2 separate regions of the Homo sapiens genome follow, and region 1 is linked to region 2. The links come from fine-mapping of genetic effects on gene expression. A gene starts in region 2. The other region holds a variant in brackets. All regions are shown on one strand. Distances are between the middles of the regions. Region 1 holds the start of CNTRL (centriolin). Region 2 holds the start of C5 (complement C5).

Region 1 (11,804 bases), 26 kb before region 2:
CGTCTCAGTTTTTAAGAAAACATTTAAAAAGTAAAAAAGTTTTTAAAATAGAAAAAAGCTTATAGAATAAGGTTATAAAGAAATTAATTTTGTACAACTGTACAATGTGTTTGTTTTAAGCTAAGTTTTACTACAACAGTCAAAAAGTTTTTAAAAAGTTTAAAGTTTATAAAGTAAAAACATTACAGCAAGCTAAGGCTAATTTACTATTGAAGAGAGAAAAAATGTTTAATAAATTTAGTGTAGCCTAAGTGTACAGTGTTTATAAAGTCTACAGTAGTGTACCGTAATGTCCTACACCTTCACATTCACTCACCGACTAACTGGGAAAGAAACTTCCAGTCCTGCAAGCTCCATTCATCTGGTAAGTGCTCTATACAGGTATACTTTTTTTACATTTTATACCATATTTTTATTGTACTTTTTCTATTTTTTTTTTTTTTTTTGAGAGGGAGTCTCCCTCTGTCGCCCAGGCTGGTGTGCAGTGGCACGATCTCGGCTCACTGAAACCTCCACCTCCTGGGTTCAAGCGATTCTCCTGCCTCAGCCTCCTGAGTAGCTGGGACTACAGGCACGTGCCACCACGCCTGGCTAATTTTGGTATTTTTAGTAGAGACGGGGTTTCACCATATTGGCCAGGCTGGTCTCGAACTCCTGACCTTGTGATCCACGTGCCTTGGCCTCCCAAAGTGCTGGGATTACAAGTGTGAGCCACCACACCCAGCCCCTTTTCTATGTTTAGATGCACAAATATTTACCATGGTGCTACAACTGCCTAAAGTATTCAGTACAGTAACATGCTGTACAGGTTTGTAGTCTAGGAGCAACAGGCTATCCTATACCATCTAGGTTTGTGTAAGTACATTCTATGATGTTTGTACAATGATGAAATTGTCTAACAACGCATCTTACAGAGCAAATTCTGTCATTAAGGGACACATGACTGTATGTTAAATTAAACTAAATTTTGCCTGAAAGTGCCTCTGTACTTTAAGTCTCTACATAATGAACTGCAACCTAACTTAGAAGGTAAACTAACTGAAAGCCTAACTTAGGAGTATGTTTTTGTAATAGCTGAGTCTCAGCCAATCATAGCAGCTGAGCTTCAATCACAGGCAGTCAAGTGATCGTACCATGTTCAAATAAGGTAAACACAGAGCTATAACCAATCAAGCTATTTCTGTACCTCACTTCCCTTTTCTATCCATAAATGCTGCCTGCCTACATTGCAGAATGGATCTCTCTGAATCTCTTCTGGTTCTGAGGGCTGCCCAATTTGTGAACTATTCTTTGTTCAATTAAACTGTTAAATTTAATGTGTTGATAATTTCTCTTTTAACCTATATATTTGATGTTCCTCCTGTTTCCTATCACATAGCTCTTAAAACCTTTGGGTTCTCCACAGTGATAAGAGTGTCTTTCGTTTACTAATAAGATGACTGGTGACACCCAGACAGCTTTGGGATGGGGGCCAGTCACCAGAAAGACTAAGGCATGTTTAGAGGGTTGGGACTTTAAGCCCAACCCCACAACCTTTAAGGAGGGGAGAGCAGCTAAAATTGATTTGATAACCAGTAGCCAATGATGTGAGCAATCACGCCTACATAAGTAAGCCTCCATAAAACCCCAAAAGGACAGGGTCCAGAGAACTTCCAATTAGCTGAACATGTGGAGGTGTCTGGAAGATGGCATGCTGGCGAGAGCATGAAAACTTCATACCCCTTTCCACGTACCTTGCCCTATGCAACTCTTCCTCTGGCTGTTTATTTTGTAATATCCTTTATAATAAATGGGAAAATGTAAGTAGTATTTCTCTGAGTTCTGTGACCCACTCAAGCAAATTAATTGAACCCAAGGAGGGGGCAGTGGGAGTCCCAATTTATAGCTTGGTGGTCAGAAGTATAGGTGGCAATCTACTACTTGTAATGGGCATCTGAAGTTGGTGGCACTCTTGTGGGACTGAGTCCTTAACCTGTGGGATCTGATGCTATCTTCAGGCAGACAGTGTCAGAATTGAACTGAATAAGAGGACATGCAGCTGGTGTCCACTGAAGAAGTATCTGGTGTATGGGGCAACAACCCTTACATGTCTGATGTCACAAGTATTGTACTGTGTGGTACGGCAGTAGGAAGAACATTTTGAGTTTTTCATATCTCTATTAAAAGATAATATAACTTCACAAGCATATGGGTACATATAAGCTGTGATTATACAGAAACTTCCTGCAAACTCCCAGCTTTCTAACAGCTGGCCATAAAGAAATTAAGACTCTCATTCCATAGGGGTCCTACCCAATACCCAGGAGGAAGGAATGCTGCACAGAGAGGCCAAGAGAAATCTGGAGAGGTAGGTGTTGCTGAGTTTCCTCACTCAGTCTATTAGCGTTAGATCATACCCATTTTGTCCAATCCTATTTCTATACAGCTGTCCACACTTCACTAATCCTAAGCATAAAAACGGATAATTTTTTCTGCATTTTTTGGGTCTTCATTCTGAAGGCTCCCATGACACATAAAGCTTTGATCGAATAAATTTGCTATGCTTTTCTCTAGTCAACCTGTCTTTGTTACAGGGGTGTTGGCCATGACCTTTATGATGGGCCAGAAAGGAATTACTCCCTTTCCTCCCCTACAGAACTTATACAGTATATAAAGGAGAGATTACACTAATATAATCTATTAATATATTCAATTTTTGGAATTCCTCTTTGGATTCTGCTTTCAAACTAATTCTTAAGTCTCACAAGAAAATCGGGTCCATCGCTTCAGGTACACTTTGTTTTTATTTTCCCAGTTTGATCACTAACCTTACTCAGTAAATTTGACTCCATATGAATTTTGTCTACTTCCAAAAATTTAATGAAAAGATGATGATTGAAGTTAATTCTAAAGAATATCATACTAGTGGCTAACATTTACTGAGGGCTTACCACGCACCAAATATTGTGATATTTCGTCAGGCACGGTATGTATACTTGCAGTCCCAGTTACTCCAGAGGATGAGGCAGGAGGATTGCTTGATCCCAGGAGCTCCAGGCTACAATGTGCTATGATCAACCTTGTGACTGGCCACTGCACTGCAGCCTGGGAAACACAGGGAGCCCCTGTCTCTAAAAAACAGACAGACAAATATATGTTGTGATAAGCTCTTTATGTGTATCATCATATTGAAAGAATTGAATACAACAACTCTATGAGATAAGTGTTATTTCCCATTTTACAGATGAAGATCTTAAATAATTTGTCCAAAATTCCTTAACTAATTGGTTTAGCCAAAACTTGAAATGTGATTTAATTCAAAACCCATGTTTTTAATGACCATGTCATATAGCTATCTGAGTTTCCTGGAGTCTAGATTATGTTTCCTTTGTTCTCTATGGCCTAGCATGATGCCATGGGCGGCAGGTGCCTGTAATCCCAGCTACTTGGGAGGTTGAGGAACAAAAATCACTTGAACTGGGGAGGTGGAGGTTGCGATGAGCCAAGATCGTGCCCCTGCGCTCCACCCTGGGCAACAGAGTGAGACTTCATCTCAAAAAAACAAAACAAAAAAAATCCTGAAGGAAACCCAGAAAATTTTATACAAAGAAAGGATCTCTGATATCATGATCCGGTCTCTCAAGGTGAGTAGTTTGAAAGGAATAAAAACCCCGTCTTTTTTTGTTTTTAAAAAGTTGATTATTATTTCACATACATTACAATATAGCCAAATGCCCCATTCCAATAGCCTCATTCACTACAGGTTAAGCACTCCAAATCTGAAAATCTGAAATATTTAAATATAAATGTAAAAAATATAAACAAGTATAAAGCAAATATTCCAAAATCCGAAAAAATCCAAAATCCAAGACACTTTTGATAGCAAGCATTTTGGACAAGAGATAATCAACCTGTACTTTATTTTTATTTTTTTGGAGGCAGCGTTTCACTATGTTGTCCAGGCTGATCTCGAACTCCTGAGCTCAAGCAATCCTCCCACCTCTACCTCCCAAAGTGTTAGGATTACAGGCATGAGCTACCACACCTGGCCTTCAACCTGTACTTCAAACTGTGAACTTAAATGTATCTGTACTTTTTCCTTCATTTTCTCATATTAAACTATACATATGGATCAGAAAAACTCCCCCAAGTTACATAACTGCTATTTATGCCATTTCCACAAGGCTTTTTGGTCTAAATTTCAAGCGTGGTAAACAATTTTTGTGCCTTATAACACAATTTTGCCATGGAAAAAAGTCTTTTAGTAATTTTAATATTATGAAATACATACTTAGTCTTAGTCCCTTTTGCTATCGTAAGTGTCTTTTTGTATACTAATGAGTTGACTGATGGCTAGCCACCTCTAGGCAGCTTCAGGATCGTGGCTGGTCACTAGAAAGAGGGAGGGGAGAGGGGCTAAAGGTTGAGTTGATCACCAATGGCCAATGATGTAATCAATCAGGCCTACATAATGAAGCCTCCATAAAAAGTTAAAAGACTGGGTTTGGGGAGCCTCCAGAAAGCTGGACACAGGGAGGGTCCTGGAGGGGAATCCACCCAGAGAGGGTGTGGAAGCTCTACGCCCCTTCCCACCTGCCTTACGCTATGCATCTTTTCACCTATATCCTTTGTAATATCTTTTATAATAAACCAGTAAATGTAAGTAAGTGCTCCCTGAATTCTGTGAGCTGCTCTAGCAAATTAATCAAACCCAAGGAGGGAGTTGTGGGAACTCTGATTTATAGCTGGTCAGTCAGAAGCACAGGTAAAACTGAGGCTTACAGTTGGCATCAGAACTTGGGGGCAGTCTTGTAAGCCAGCCTTCAACCTTAGGGATGTGACGCTGTCTCCAGGTAGACAGTGTCAGAATTGAACTGAACTAGAGGACAGTCCTGTGGTGCCCACCACTGCAGAACTAACTGCTTGCTTAATGTGTGGGGGAAAATCCTACGGAATCATGTTGTGAGCGTATAGTGGGAGAAATTGAGTTTAATCTGTAGTCTCAGTAATACTATTTTTTTCTTTTTTTGAGACAGAGTCCTGCTCTGTTGCCCAGGCTGGAGTGCGGTGGTGTGATCTCGGCTCACTATAACCTCCGCCTCCCAGGTTCAAGTGATTGTCCCGCCCCAACCTACTGAGTAACTGGGATTACAGGTGCACAGCACCACGCCCGGCTAATTTTTTTTATTTTTAGTAGAGATGAGGTTTTGCCATGCTGGCCAGGCTGGTCTCAAACTTCTGACCTCAGGTGATCCACCCACCTCGGCCTCCCAAAGTGCTGGGATTACAGCCACCATGCCCAGCCCTCAGTAATACTATTGATGCTGCTAAGCTGCACTGGCATTCTCCTTCTAAATAAGGATAATACTCTAAAATTTGAGAAAAGCTAAGAGGCATGTGCTTAGGTAAAATCTTATTCCTAATTAAATGGATTAAAAGATGACATTTATTATAGTATGTATAGTACGTAGTTGGCGTTTTTTTCCCCCCTGAGGCAAGGTCTTTCTCTGTCACCCAGGCTGGAGTGTAGTGGCATGCTCATGGCTCACAGCAACCTTGCCTTCCTGGGCTCAAGTGATCCTCCTACCTCAGCCTCCTGAGTAGCTGGGACTACAGGCGCATATAACCACGCTTGGCTAATTTTTTATTTTTTGTAGAGATGGGGGGTCTCACTATAGTTCCCAGGTTGGTCTTGAACTCCTGGGCTCAAGTGATCCTCCTGCCTCAGCCTCCCAAAGTGCTGGGATTACAGGTGTGAGCCACTGTGCCCAGCCTGTAGTTTTTACATCCTAATGATCAAGACCCTTTAGGTCTCACCAGACTATCATGAGGTCCTTTATTACCTCTCCTGATTAGTAAAAGTCAGGCTTACTCATTCATAGACTTAAACCCTTGGTTGCCACAGCTTCTGTAAAGCTTGGACACTGAAACAAGATAGACGTAATCAGTCTCAGAGAATAGCTAACTCAGTGAAGTGGGCTTAGGGGTTTACAGTGTTTGAGAATGGCTGGCATTATTTCTTAGGCTACTGCCTGGAGGTGGTAAATGCTGAATTATAATTTTAATGGAGAGATGAGGATGTAGTTTGATCTAGGATGTTGTTTGCAATCACATGAACAAAGACCAAGCAAGCAATGGAAAAATGAAGACAACTGAGAGGTAGGCTAGGGCGAGTAAAGGAGCAGGATAAAGAGAAAAAAAAAGCAAATAAAGTTCAGAGCTGCAGTTGTATTTTAAAGGCTGTCTGCAGAGCAAGAGAAAGCCATTGGAATGACATGATAATCAGAATCCTACGTCCAGGCAACAAAACACTACCCATCCTGCCACCTATAAACCCAGATAGTTGCTCTGATCTAACAATTCAGTCCATCACAGCTTAGTACAGACTGCAAACTCCACCTCCATCCAGCCTTTCCTAACCTTCCTAACTTCCCATCTTCTCTGATCTCCAAATAACGCAGACCTCCTTCTGTCTCTCTACAGACTCCCTAATATGCAAATACCCATCCCCATTTATTAACCCCCATATCCCTCTCCTTAGCCCTTTAATTGGATTTCAGTACTTTCCAAGTCTACTTCATCCCATACCCTCTGACCTACTGAAATACTTTTACTCCTTAATCTTCTCCTCCTTTCAAATATCCTGATTCCGATTCCTCTGCAAAGTCTCCAGCCATTTTTCTTTCCAAAGCCAATTCCCCCATTCTGTGCTGCCCACCCACCTCTGCCTCCCATTCTTCTTTATCCCATTCTGATTGCCAATTTTCCCACAAATTCTATCCCAGTTCCCTAACACAGTAATAGTCTCCCCCATTTCTCTATGGTTCTTTCCTGTGCCCAGACTCAACATTTCTCTATCCATCCAGACTTCCCAAGCTGCTCATCTCTCTTCACCCCAGAAAATACCCTGACATCCTAATGCGTTCCAATACTCTGACCTCCAATTACTCCCCTCCCTAAACAAAATACTCAAACCTCCATCCATTCCTCTTCATCCCAACCCAACTGCCTGCCTATTTGCCTTTCCATCCTAATACTCTAGCCCCCGTATCCTTCTCCATCCTATTAAAAGCCTGAATCCCCTCTCCCATCTCTCTTCTTCTGCTCAGATACCCTAAAACTCAAGCTTCCCATCTCTTTCCATTAATTATTCAATTTTATTGAGCAACTTTTATGTAGGAAGAACCATGCTAGAATCTAAGCTCAAGATGCAGAAGATTTTATCTCCCTATTACCCATGATCTCTGCACCAAGCAGTCTCCTTCATAGCATTTTATAACCATTATTTGTGAAACTACTTGGTTGTTGCCTGTTTCTCCTTCTAGACTATAAGCTACAAGAGAGCAGAGGTTTTGTCTGTTGTTCTATAAACAATAAATATTTGTTGACTGAAGGACTGTACTAAACACTTAGACAATACCAAATTTAAATCCTCAAAGATTTAGCTGTATAGGATCAGAATTATTAACCTGATTTACAAATGGCAATGTACCTGAACAGTTAAAAGCTTGGATTCTGGAACGAAACAGCCTGAGTTCAAATTCTGATTTTCCACTTACTGTGTGATCTTAGGCAAATTACTTAACCTCTCTGGTCCTCAGTGCTATCACTTTTTAAATGGGGATGATAACCTCATACAAGTTATTTTAAATTCTAAATGAGGTTAATACGTGCAAAGTGCTTAAAACTGGATCTGACAAATAGTGAACACCCAAAAATGATTCGCAATTATTTGGACAAATGAGGAAACATGATCAGGAAGGCTCAGACACATATCCAGGGTCACAGACCTGGTTAAGTTACACAAGGTGG[C/T]AGAATTGAGGCTTCAACCCAAGTTTGTCTGGCTTCAAAATTCTCTAGTCCCTTAACGAATATAACGGAAGTGTTTGTTCTTCCCCTTCTTTTAGCATTTCGTCCCCATATCCTGTCATCTTTCTCCACGCACTGTACTCCGTCCGATACCGTGACAACCCGTCAGGACGCCCAAACTGTCCTTTCTCCCGCTCACTCCCCACAGACAGCTGGCACATCCCAGCTCTCCCCTCAGCTCAGGTGGCAGGACCCACAACCTTCTGGGCGCCGCACCCTAACTTCCACACCTCCCCACACTCTGGTTCTTCATCCCCAATCGCCCCCGCCGTCCCCACCTCTTCCCATCCAAACCTCCCTCCTTCATCCACCGCCCCACGCCCGTTCCGGGCCCTCCCCTCTTTCCCGTCCAATCCCAATTCCCAGACACGCGCCCCCGCCCCGAATCCATCCCAAGCCGGCCCACACCACGCCCGGTCCGGGCCTTCCCGCCTTTGCCGCCGGCCCCCACTGCTCGGGCCGGATGCCGGGGAACGGGCTCGGCCAGGTCTGACGCTCACCGCCTAGAAGCCGAGCCGAGCAGTCCCGCAGGCTGAGGTAGAGCGGGAGAAGTTCGGGCTCTTTCCTCAGGGGCCCAGCGGCGCGGCAGCCATTTTGTTGTGTTGTGCCGGTTGCCGAGGGGCCGCGCGCGCGTGGTCGGGGCTAGTCTCAGCCACGCCCCTCTCCCTCTCCGGTACTGTTGGAAGGGACGCGGAGGCGTTTCCCGCCTCTTTTGCAGCCAGCGCGCTAGGATGCCGGGGAGTCTTGGGCGCGAGGCTTCCGGCCGCGCGGGGCCGACGGGATGCGGTGCCTTCGCCTTCGGATTGCGTTGCAGGTGAAGTGTCGGGTGCAGAGTCAGGGGGAGCCGAGGTTTCATGCGGCAGCTGCCCGCAGTGCTGTGGCCTTCGCTGAGACAAAGCTGCCGCCGCCACCCTCTGAAACACGGACACGCTTCTCAGGGCCTGTGTCCGAGGACGGCCTGAGGCACCGGCGCAGCGCCTCCCCGGCCTCCCCCACTTCTGATGCTTGCGCGCTATGAGCGAGTGTTCTTATCAGCACACTTCTCTCTGACAGTCGTATCTAAAGCGAATTCCCTCCAGGGACCGAACTGCCCAGGCTCGGATGAACCTCAAAGCGGACGCAGCCTGGGCTCCAGCTGTCGCGTGAGGTTCAGGGAGCTTGGGAATCCTAGGCAGAGGATGTTCCTCTGATTGCTACAAGGGAGTTAAAGCAAGAAGCACTTGCACAGGCTTCATCTGGGGCTTGCCCATGAGCACGGCGTTCACGACATGCATTCAACAGATATTTTAAAGAATTTAGCAGATACTGGGCTGGATGCTAGGGAAACACTGAAGTTTTTTTTAAAGTGTTATCACCATTGACGCCTTTCACTCCAGTAGCCTCCCGTTTTGAAGGTATACCCTGGACCATGTTACCATCAGAGGCTGCACCCGCTCCAGAAATCCCCAGTGCAATCGCTCCCCATCCTTGACTATAATCCTATCATCTTAGCAGCGTGCCTGCTCAAAAGACCCCTATGCCAGCGTATTTCTAAACTTCCTTGCGTCTTCCAGTCCCTTGTTCTTACCATTTTCTCGCGATCATTCTATCCTGTCTTCATTTCCTTTCTTCACTACAGAGTTTATAGGCCACCTGTATAACACTTTTAGAAACTCCCTCTCTCTCTGTGTCTCAGTTTCCTTATCTATGAAATGAGGTCCTTTTACCTATTAACACTTCCTACAGTTTTCCTGATAATTATAAAAGTGAATCCTGGCCGGGCGCTGTGGCTCATGCCTGTAATCCCAGCACTTTGGGAGACCAAGGTGGGAGGATCACTTGAGGTCAGGAATTCAAGATCAGCCTGGCCAACAAGGTGAAACGCCGTCTCTACTAAAAATACAAAAATTACCCGGGCGTGGTGGCGCACGCTTGTCATCCCAGCTGCTTGAGAGGCTGCAGGAGGATCGCTTGAACCCGGGAGGCGGAGGTTGCAGTGAGCCGAGATCGCGCCACTGCACTCCAGCCTGGACGACAGAGCGAGACTCCATCTCAAAAAAAAAAAAAAAAAAAAAAAGTCCAGTTTTCCTGATAATTATAAAAGTGAATCTCTGTGAAAGAACTTAGAACAGTGAGGGACCCATAGTAAGTTCTCAATATGTCTTAGATATTTCATTATTAGACAAAGGTTACCCAGAAGCAATACTTCTTTCTACGCCCAAAAGAAGAGTTTAGGCAAGGAGTAGGGAGGTGGGGAAGAATTTGCTTGGCAAAGGGAACAACTTGTGCAAACCCCGGAAGCGGGGGAAAAGAGCTTGGCAATGTGCTGAATGTTAAGTAATTCAGTGTGGCTGGAACAAAACATGAGTATGGAAACATGAAGTAGTTCAGTATGGCTTGTGCAAAAATCTGGGGTGGAGAAGCTAAATCTGGAAAAGGGACCATATTATAAGCAGTATTAGGCACTTCATTTTTCCTTAAGGCAGAGATGGCTTCACCTCTATAGGAAATTCAGGGGACGTCCAACAGGGAATAAGCTGCAATAAACATGGGGATGCAGATGTGTCTTTGATTTACTTTGATTTACTGATTTCCTTTTCCTTTTACTTAAATGTGATTCCCATTGACATTTAAGTGAATGGTGCTGTCCTCTCCCCAACTATTTACACGACACAGAACGAAGCCCTTGGAGTTTAAACGCAGAATTTTTGAAAAGCTCCACTTAAGAGGAGATTACATTCATTTTTTTTCTTTTCTTTTTTTTTTTTTTTTTTTTAATTTTTTGAACAGAGTCTGGCTCTGTCACCCAGGCTGGAGTGCAGTGGCAGGATCTCGGCTCAGTGCAACCTCCGCCTCCCGGGTTCAAGCGATTCTCCTGCCTCAGCCTCCCGAGGAGTTGGGATTACAGGCACGCACCACCAAGGCCAGCTAATTTTTGTATTTTAGTAGAAACAGAGTTTCACCATGTTGGTCAGGCTGGTCTCAATCTCCTGACCTCACGTGATCCGCCCGCCTCGGCCTCCCAAAGTGCTGGGATTACAGGCGTGAGCCACCGCGCCCTGCCGAGATTACATTCATTTTTAATCGAAGTTCAGGTGATATTTATTAGATTGGAATGTGTACGTTGCTGAGTTTCAGTTCTATTTGCATATGTTTTGACACCCATCGTTTCGGTTTCTTGTACCCAGAAACTTAGATTTATTGCGTAACCTCATTGCTGTGTCCCTCAAAGTCTGTAATGGTATTCACGTGGGATCCATTATCAAGCCGTGGTGTGCTGATGTAGTTCATTATCAATCATATTAGTATCAATTAATAGCCATCAAATATACATAAAAAGTCCAGAGGGTGGCGCAAAACACTTTTCTCTTGGGTGATCTCTCAGTCCGTATCCAGTTAGCCGCGGATGGGCACTCACCGGTCCCATGTTGCCCCCTTTTCCTCCTCATACAGACCTCTGCTGGTGTCTAGCATCATCTCTAACGAAGCTAGAGACTTCAAAGGAGAGACCTTTCTCCAGTTAATTTGAATATTAACTGTCTCTCTTAGCATGCTAAAAGAACTTCCTTCTCCAAAGCAGAAGTGAGAATACGAAAGTAACGCAGACAACTCGCGTTCCACACTATTTTTCTTTATCTGATATTATGAAGAATGTACTCTGAGTTGCATTTACAATACAAATATTAGCCACGTCAGGGTGACCAAGCTTTTACTCAGTCTTTTTTCCAAATGATAGCAAAGCTATTCTGTTTAAACTTCCCTCAGCTTTTTGCAACCCAGTTTAATCATTTTGCGAATTTGTTTTAGAGAAGAAACAGACTAGTTTGTCAGACAGGGATGGCAACTTTCATTATTGCCATTTCTTTCTGTGACTGGCCAGTGTGATTTTGTTGTTTTGTTTTTTAAGACAAGGTCTCACTCTGTCACCCAGGTTTCAGTGCAGTGACACAATCATAACTCACTGCAGCCTTGACTTC
Region 2 (8,000 bases):
TCAGCCCAAAAAAGCAGGACATCTCCAAGCAGGGACTTAGTAGTTATAGGTGGGTCTTAAGGATTCTTCAGTTGACAATTGGTTGAGAGGGTTAAGCTATTGTCTAAAGGCTTAAAGTCAATAGTAAGTAATGCTTGAGTTAAAGGAGGTTGTGGGGTCCAAGGTTCTTGTTACGTTGATGAATCCTCATAGGTAGCAGCCCTCCGAGAGAATCAATGGCAAACGTCTGTCTCTTTGCAGACCTTTGAGATGTCAGACTCTCAGTTCAACTCTGCCAGAACTGGGAAAAGCCTAGAAAGGGAAGGCCTGGTTGCATTAATGGAGATTATCTACAGATGCAAATCTCACTCACAAAAGATAGCTTTGCAGGGCCATTTCAAAATATGTCAAATAAATATATTTTGAGGTAAAATATTTTTATTCCCTACAGGGTCTGCTATCTGTCATGTGATGCTATATCAGAGTCAGGTTGAAAAGCAAACCATATTACAGCAGGTTTATTTTTATTTATTTATTTATTTTGAGGCAGCGTTTTGCTCTCGTTGCCCAGGCTGGAGTGCAATGGCACGATCTTGGCTCACTGCAACCTCTGCCTCCCAGGTTCAAGCAATTCTGCTGCCTCAGCCTCCTGAGTAGCTGGGATTACAGGCACCTGTCACCACACCCAGCTAATTTTTGTATTTTTAGTAGAGATGAGGTTTCACCATATTGGCCAGACTGGTCTTGAACTCCTGACCTCAGGTGATCTGCCTGCCTCAGCCTCCCAAAGTGCTGGGATTACAGGAGTGAGCCACCACGCCCGGACTATACCAGGTTAACTTTTAAAACTCATTTAATGATATTTTATGGTTTGTAGGGTGTGATTCCTTGCATGAATGGCCTGAGGTCTTGTTTATAATTTGGTATCTTATTGCCACAGAGTCTGTTTTGTCCGTCTTATGATATTTTAACTTGAATGCTGGTCAGTTGTGCCTAAACTCCAAAGGGAGGGGGTATAACAAGGCATGTCTAACCTCCCTTCCCATCACGGCCAGGAATTCAATTTTTAAGATGTTTCTGGGGTCTCTTTGGCCAAGTGGGAGTTCATTCAGTCAATAGGGGGCAAGTTGGGGGTGCTTAGCATTTTATGTTTAGTCTACACACTTTAGTCCTTGTGTCCTGACTGCCACTCAAATAGACTCAGGACCTCAGACCACTTTAGTTAGCCAGTGGTGAAGCTAGCCATGACCTGGGTTTCTCCCTCTGGAGCACAGAATTCTCCTCTGTCCCAAGGCCTGCCTAAATGCACTGTCAGAATTCTAGGCGCCTGCAGAATTCTGTCCTGTGTTATGTTCCACCATGACGGGGCAGCACTGACTTCCAGTGCAAAGTCCCACACTCACTTTGCTCTCTCTCCTCCAAGCACACGGATTCTCTTTCCTGCTGTGCAGCCTGTGGTTGGAGGAGGGGTGGTATAGGCAATACAGGGAGATCTTCCCCCCTACCCCCACCCTATCTTCAATGCCTCTTTCCTTATCATTACGGTAAAAGTAGGCACTGTGATCACTCACCTGATTTTATGGCTTTTATGAAGGTGCTGTCTTGCGTGGATAGTTGTTCTATTTGGTGTTCCTGTGTGGAGAACTATCTCGGGGGGGGTTCTATTCAGCCATCTTGCTCCACCTCCGCCCTCTCTCCAGTCAGTCTTTAAACTGCTGGCACCGAAGCCTCCAGTGCCTTTCTCCTCTATATCCCATGGAGAGTTACTGAAGTAGTTCTTTTTGGATTTCAGTTGGCCTTTTAGTAGAGCCTTTCTCCTAAAGGATTAAAACGTGAGACTGCGGGCTTGAGCCAAAAAGCAGTCAGAGGGACAAATACTGGGTTTTACTTAGAATAACCCACCTGCCTAGTGCCAGCCTACCACTCTTGAACAAAACTTGTATGATTCCCGTGTCTCCATTTAGAATAATTTAATTCTGAGGAGACGCCTCTGTTTCTCCACTGGCCTCTGGACATGGAACAGGCACATGAAAATTACCTGGGGCAGCTATGGGTCACATCACCTCTCTTACTCTAGCCAGCCAGCAGGCACTTGAAGTTCGCAATCTGATGGGCTGAATTTCTGAAAACAATAACAAACACAATGTCACTTATTTTTTATTCTCTAAATTTACAACCCATTAATATACCTCCCTGTAAGCTGTCTGATTTTGAAAATTATACATGATAAAATCTTTTTATTATACATAAAAAAGAGTTCTGTAGTTTGTATTAATAGAAAATTGGTGTCCAGACATATTTTACCAAGTAAGTACAAAATAACTAAAGAATATCCATTTGAAAGATACAAAATTATTATCCTGCTAGGAGCACCTTGGTGTCAAGGTGACTTCAGGGAATAATCAGGTAATTCAGCTCCTTGGCCGGAGTGAAGAATGGAATGTTGAGGCTGGAGAACTAAGCAGGGCTCAAGAGGGGCCTGGTGCACTAGGCTAGGTCATTTGGGCTCAATCATGAGGGGACAATTGAGGCAGCATTAGCAGGAAGGTCAGGTGACCACCAAACTTTCTGCCAGATCTGAGTTTCTTCTCTTTTAGAAATGCAGTATTTGTATAAAAATGAAAGGCTTACCAAAGGTCACATTTTAAATTATAAAGAAAAAAAATCATCTTTTTTTTTTTTTTTTTTTTCTGAGATGGAGTCTGGCTCTGTTGCTCAGGCTGGAGTGCGGTGGCGTGATCTGTGCTCAACCTCCACCTCCCAGGTTCAAGTGAATCTCCTGCCTCAGCCTCCCAAGTAGCTGGGATTACAGGCACCCGCCACCACGCCTGGCTAATTTTTGTATTTTTAGTAGAGGCGGGTTTTCGCCATGTTGGCCAGGCTGGTCTTGAACTCTTGACCTCAGGTGATCCACCCACCTCGGCCTCCCAAAGATCTGGGATTACAGGTGTGAGCCAGCGTGCCCAGCCTCAAAAGTTCATCTGTGAGCCACATTTAGAAGGTAGATAAAAAATTTTGACTAAACACAGCTTAGAATCTATAAATTGTTAAACTTCAGTTCTGTTGAGAATCTTTGAGATCCATCATTCTCTAAATGTTTTCTACCAGAGAAACAGGACAATGGCTTGCAAATATTGGTTATCAGTATTTACTCTATAGCTCAAGCAAACAAACTTATTTGCACTTAAAATACAAATATTACCTACCTTGATTTGAGTGTTGTTGTTCTCTCTTAAATTTCATTTCCCAAAAATGATGGCAAAAGTACTGTTTGTTTTAACTTGACCCATCTTTTGCAACCCAGCTTAATCATTTCACAGATTCCCTTTTGAAATAAATGGGCTAGATGATCAGACAATAGTGGCAAATGTTTGTCATTTCAATGACATATGCAAGAGATACCTTTAGTGAAATTTGTATATCAAATTTCCCTTTGTGCTCCTTTTTTCCCTAGTGAATTCAGCATTAAAGTGTTTATAAATATTTTTGGTTTATTATTTATTAATTCAAAGCAAAGAATGCCAATGTGACCATAAATATCTCATTTATATATCATAAATATCTCATTATAGAAATATGTTTAGAGACATCTGTTTTATTATTTTAAAGAAGAGTACATATTATATATTAAGGTAAAAATAGTACTAAAAAAGAGAAGGTAGTAAATAAAAAAATTCTAATGAACATAAAACATCATAAAAATTAACTTAATTAAAAATCAGCCAGGCACAGTGGCTCATGCCTGTAATCCCAGTACTTTGGGAGGCCAAGGTGGGTGGATCACCTGAGGTCAGGAGTTCGAGACCAGCCTGGCCAACACGGTGAAACCCTACCTCTACTAAAAATACAAAAAATTAGCTGGATGTGATGGGACATGCCTGTAGTCCCAGCTACTTGGGAGGCTGAGGCAGGAGAATGCCTTGAACCTGGGAGGCAGAGGTTGCCCTGAGCCAAGATAGTGCCACTAGACTCCAGCCTGGGCGACAGAAAGAGACTCTGTCTCCAAAAAAAAAAAAAAAAGTATAAAGATAAAATTTTAGTATATTGTGAATTAATTACTAGACTCAATTGTTATAGGAAGCTTTGTTTTTCTGGAGCTCTTATATTAAAATTATTAAAATCCTCACTGAAAAGTATAACATGTGTTTTCTTTAAAAGAAAGATATTCTATATCTGAATAAAGACAAACTTTGAACGAGTGGTATATGCCTTAATAAATATTGGAGAATATCTATTCTCCAATACTTAGAGAATGACGACAGCATCCTCCACATGGCGTTTTCATTGCCAGTCACAACTTTCCTCCACCTAGTGTTCTCTAGACTGAGACAGACCAAGGAACAATTCCCTAGACCTCCTTTGCAGAGCTAGGTTATGCTCAGACCATTTGCAGCACCAAGGACACTGCCATTCAGGTCACCAAAAAAAGATCATCTTGTGAGCCCTGTCTAAACCAGGCCCCTTCTAAAATCATTTCAGTGTGAAACTGAGTCCAGGTGGGTCTTCATCAGTATTAGAGTGGACCTGCCAGATGTATGCTTGCAGATGATGCAACATCAAAGCAAATGCCCTGGGCAAGAGAAGAAAGGCCAAAGCAATGGGCTTACTGGTTTCTAGCTTTGAGCCACTCTTCATAGTGCCAAATTCCCATTTTAGGGTCCCTTTATTTGTATTAATAAAAATAAATTCCCTGGGTGTAAGTTCCTGTAAAGTACTCCCTATCTGTATTCCTGGGCATGAAAGGGTGTTTTAGTTCCAATTCTAGTTTTCCCACTTAGAGGTTCACCTTTCTGACATTAATAATTAACCAGATTATCTGAATTCTTCAAGTTCAGTTTATTTAAAAGGAGACTATCCTCAAAAGTGTTATATCCGTGGTTTCCTGCTACCTCCAACCATGGGCCTTTTGGGAATACTTTGTTTTTTAATCTTCCTGGGGAAAACCTGGGGACAGGAGCAAACGTAAGTAAAACAAGCTATCTTCATTTTTCAATGCATCTTAGTTATGACGAATGAAGAGTTAAATTTAACAGATTCTGTTAACTTGAAAATAACTTGCTACTTCTGAGAACAGCAAGTGAATAGTATCATCTCTGAATGAGAAAGTCATGGAAGCATTTTGATTTGATGAGTAGCTAACAACATGACAGCTTTTATGGAATTGTTATTTATTAAAATTTACGTTAAGTGATTATTCAAATTCCTCTTCAAAAAAGCACAAAAGAAACTCCAGATAATAAACTTTCTTGACATTTTTTGCTTATTTTAACTTGGTGTTTAGTTTTCTTTGTGTTTTTCATAGACTATACACAGTTAAACCAGGGTTATTTAGGAGTCAATCTAATACTGTGATCTGAAAATCTGTTGTTGTAGTGACTTCTACCATACATTTATGAGCTGACTTTTCACAATTTTTAGTGTCATTATTGAGATAATATGCATTTTAAGTAATGTTTTAAAAATAATGATCTTATATCTAGAAATATTTTAATACTGAAAAGTAACTGCAGATCATCTAATCAAACCTATTCATTTTATATATGAGAATAAGTCCAGATAAGGGAAGTGACTGACCAAAGGTCACAGTTCTAGAGAGAGAGAAACAGGATTTTTATTAAGGTCTCCTGTTTATCACTTCAATTTTTTTCATTTTGTCATAAATGTATACATGTAAATATATTATATATAAACACATACTTAGGATGTCATTCTTTTTTAGCACCCTCGTATTTCTGATCTGTGATCTTTTTACATGGCCACAAGCACTCAACTACCTTAGCATCCTGCCTTTATTCTTTTTGAAAGACGAGCAGCTAAGGCTTAGAGAGACTGAAATTAAGTGACTTCAAATTGGTGGCAGAACTAGGGCTAGGACCTGGGTTCCATGATTCTTGTCCAGACTTATTCTGAATTCTTTCTACTAGCCCTTAATAAAAATTATTTCCTCACTTTCTCTGAAGAAGTCAGAGTGTACCATTTACAACATGGCAATCAATCACTTTAATTAATTGGTTGATTGATTGATTCAACAAATATTTATTGAGCATCTAAACATATGATAGGCACTGCAGATATAGCAAACGGTAAGACAATTCCTAGAGCTTGCATTCTAGTGGGAGAAGCAAGTAATGAATGAATGAACCAATGAAAGAATGTGTAAGGTCAGGTAGGTAGTATTATGAAGAAAAAAATAAAGCAGAGTATGAGAATTAAAAAATAATTATGGGGCACTATTTTAAAATGTGGCCAGGAAAGGTTCTCTTAAGGAGGCTGCACTCAAACAGAGCCTGAAGGAAGTGAGGAAGCAAACCATGCAAATATTTGAGGAAAGAGCATTCCAGATAGAGGCCAAAATAACATTCTTGCCTCTCTGCAAGCTCCTGCTCCTCTGCAGCAATTGAAAGACAAAGAAAACTATGAAATTATTTATATGGATAGATTATGCTACTGATAAGTCAATAAGAACCAAAATCTTTATAAAGGGTGGTTCCAGAATATTCTTTTAGGGGCTTCTAAACACTATGTATTTTTGCTTGACGGCTACCATCACATAGACCAGCAGTCCCCAACCATTTTGGCACTAGGGACAGGTTTTGTGGAAGACAATGTTTCCATGGACCAGGATTGGGGTGGGGATGGTTTCAGAATGAAACTGTTCCACTTCAGATCATCAGGCATTATATTCTCATAAGGAGCTTGCAATCTAGATCCCTCGCATGTGCGGTTCACAATAGAGTTCATGCTCCTAGGAGAATCTAATGCCACCACTGATCTGACAGGAGGCAGAGCTCAGGTGGTAATGCTCCTTTGCCCCACTGCTCACCTCCTGCTGTGTAGCCTGGTTCCTAACAAGCCATGGACTGGTATTTGTCCATGGCCCAGGGGTTGGGGACCCCTACCATACACAATTCAAAATTAAAGCAATACTAAACTTAAAAACATAAAGCTTCTATAAATACTGAAATTAAAGTAGCTTTATATCCCTAAATTTTTCTAATTACAAAACTCTTTATAAATTCCATTTAGTACAACAGTTGAAAATGTTAATTCTGGAAACGGGCTGCTCAGGTTCGATTTCTAATTCTATAATTTGTGAATTATAGAATTCATAAATCCTATATGTGTGGCCTTGGGAAAATTAATTAGCAGTTTCTTCACCTTAAAATTGGAGTAATAGTTCCTCACAGAGTGGTTGTAATGACACAATGAGTTTATACAAATAAAGTATTCAGAATAGTGCCTTATCACAGGGCAAAATTTCAGTAAATATATCTTATTATCATAAAAACTGAACTCCTCTCATTTTCTGCCATCTCCTACTAGGCATGTGGGGAAGGGGAATTCAGATGATGGTTGGAAATCTGGAAATTCTTTCCTCTCTTTTGTAATTTGCCTGTAAGTGGATCCAAATTAATTGTAATGCAGGATAACTGTCAGATGCTTTAAAGGATTTAATTGCTGATAAATTAATTCCATTGTTACTAAAAACTTCCTGCTTTTACCAGACTCTTAAAATGTCACAATGTTGGCAGAAGCCTGGAATAATTCTGCCAGGTGGGGTGGTGGGTGCCCTCCAAGCTTGTTGGGCCACTTGAATTAGTCGATCACTATGCCCTTTTGGGTTAAAACACTTTTTTTTCCTATGTAATAGCGTATGTAGTTCTCGCTATTCAAATTAGATACTCTTGTGATATACACTTAGTAATCCAGTTTATATTTGTAAGTTTTTAAATAAAATAATTTTTAAAAATCACTCAAAAGCATGTATAGACTCACTTCCATTATTGTATAAATCACATGAAAAGTAAAAATAAGAGAACAGTCTATGGTTGTGAATAACATATAAACTTGACCTCAACTGTACACATAACAACTGAGAACTCATATAAAGGCCTCCCCCATTTACTTACAAACCGTATAACCTTAGCCAAGTTAGCCTTTTACCACTTGCAAAGTACGAATAATGATAGTACCAGCATCATTGGCTTATTGTAAAAATTAACAAGAGCTGTATGTAAAGT

The links.
Region 1: its variant is fine-mapped to the expression of C5 in whole blood (INTERVAL, PIP above 0.99).

The regions. Positions count from the first base shown.
Region 1 is chr9:121,071,612-121,083,415 of GRCh38, reverse strand. CNTRL (centriolin) reads right to left here and starts at 8,461. Exons shown (of 44, transcript NM_007018.6): 1 at 8,349-8,461; 2 at 2,938-3,110. It also overlaps a transcript of C5 not described here. RefSeq lists silencers at 8,057-8,196, 8,317-8,376, 9,001-9,197 and enhancers at 8,497-8,886, 11,240-11,289. The variant C/T (reference allele first, on the strand shown) is at 7,792.
Region 2 is chr9:121,047,123-121,055,122 of GRCh38, reverse strand. C5 (complement C5) reads left to right here and starts at 4,848. Exons shown (of 41, transcript NM_001735.3): 1 at 4,848-4,941. The coding sequence starts at 4,877. It overlaps LOC124902261 (a long non-coding RNA gene), which reads right to left and starts at 2,266. Exons shown (of 3, transcript XR_007061753.1): 1 at 2,018-2,266; 2 at 1,551-1,796.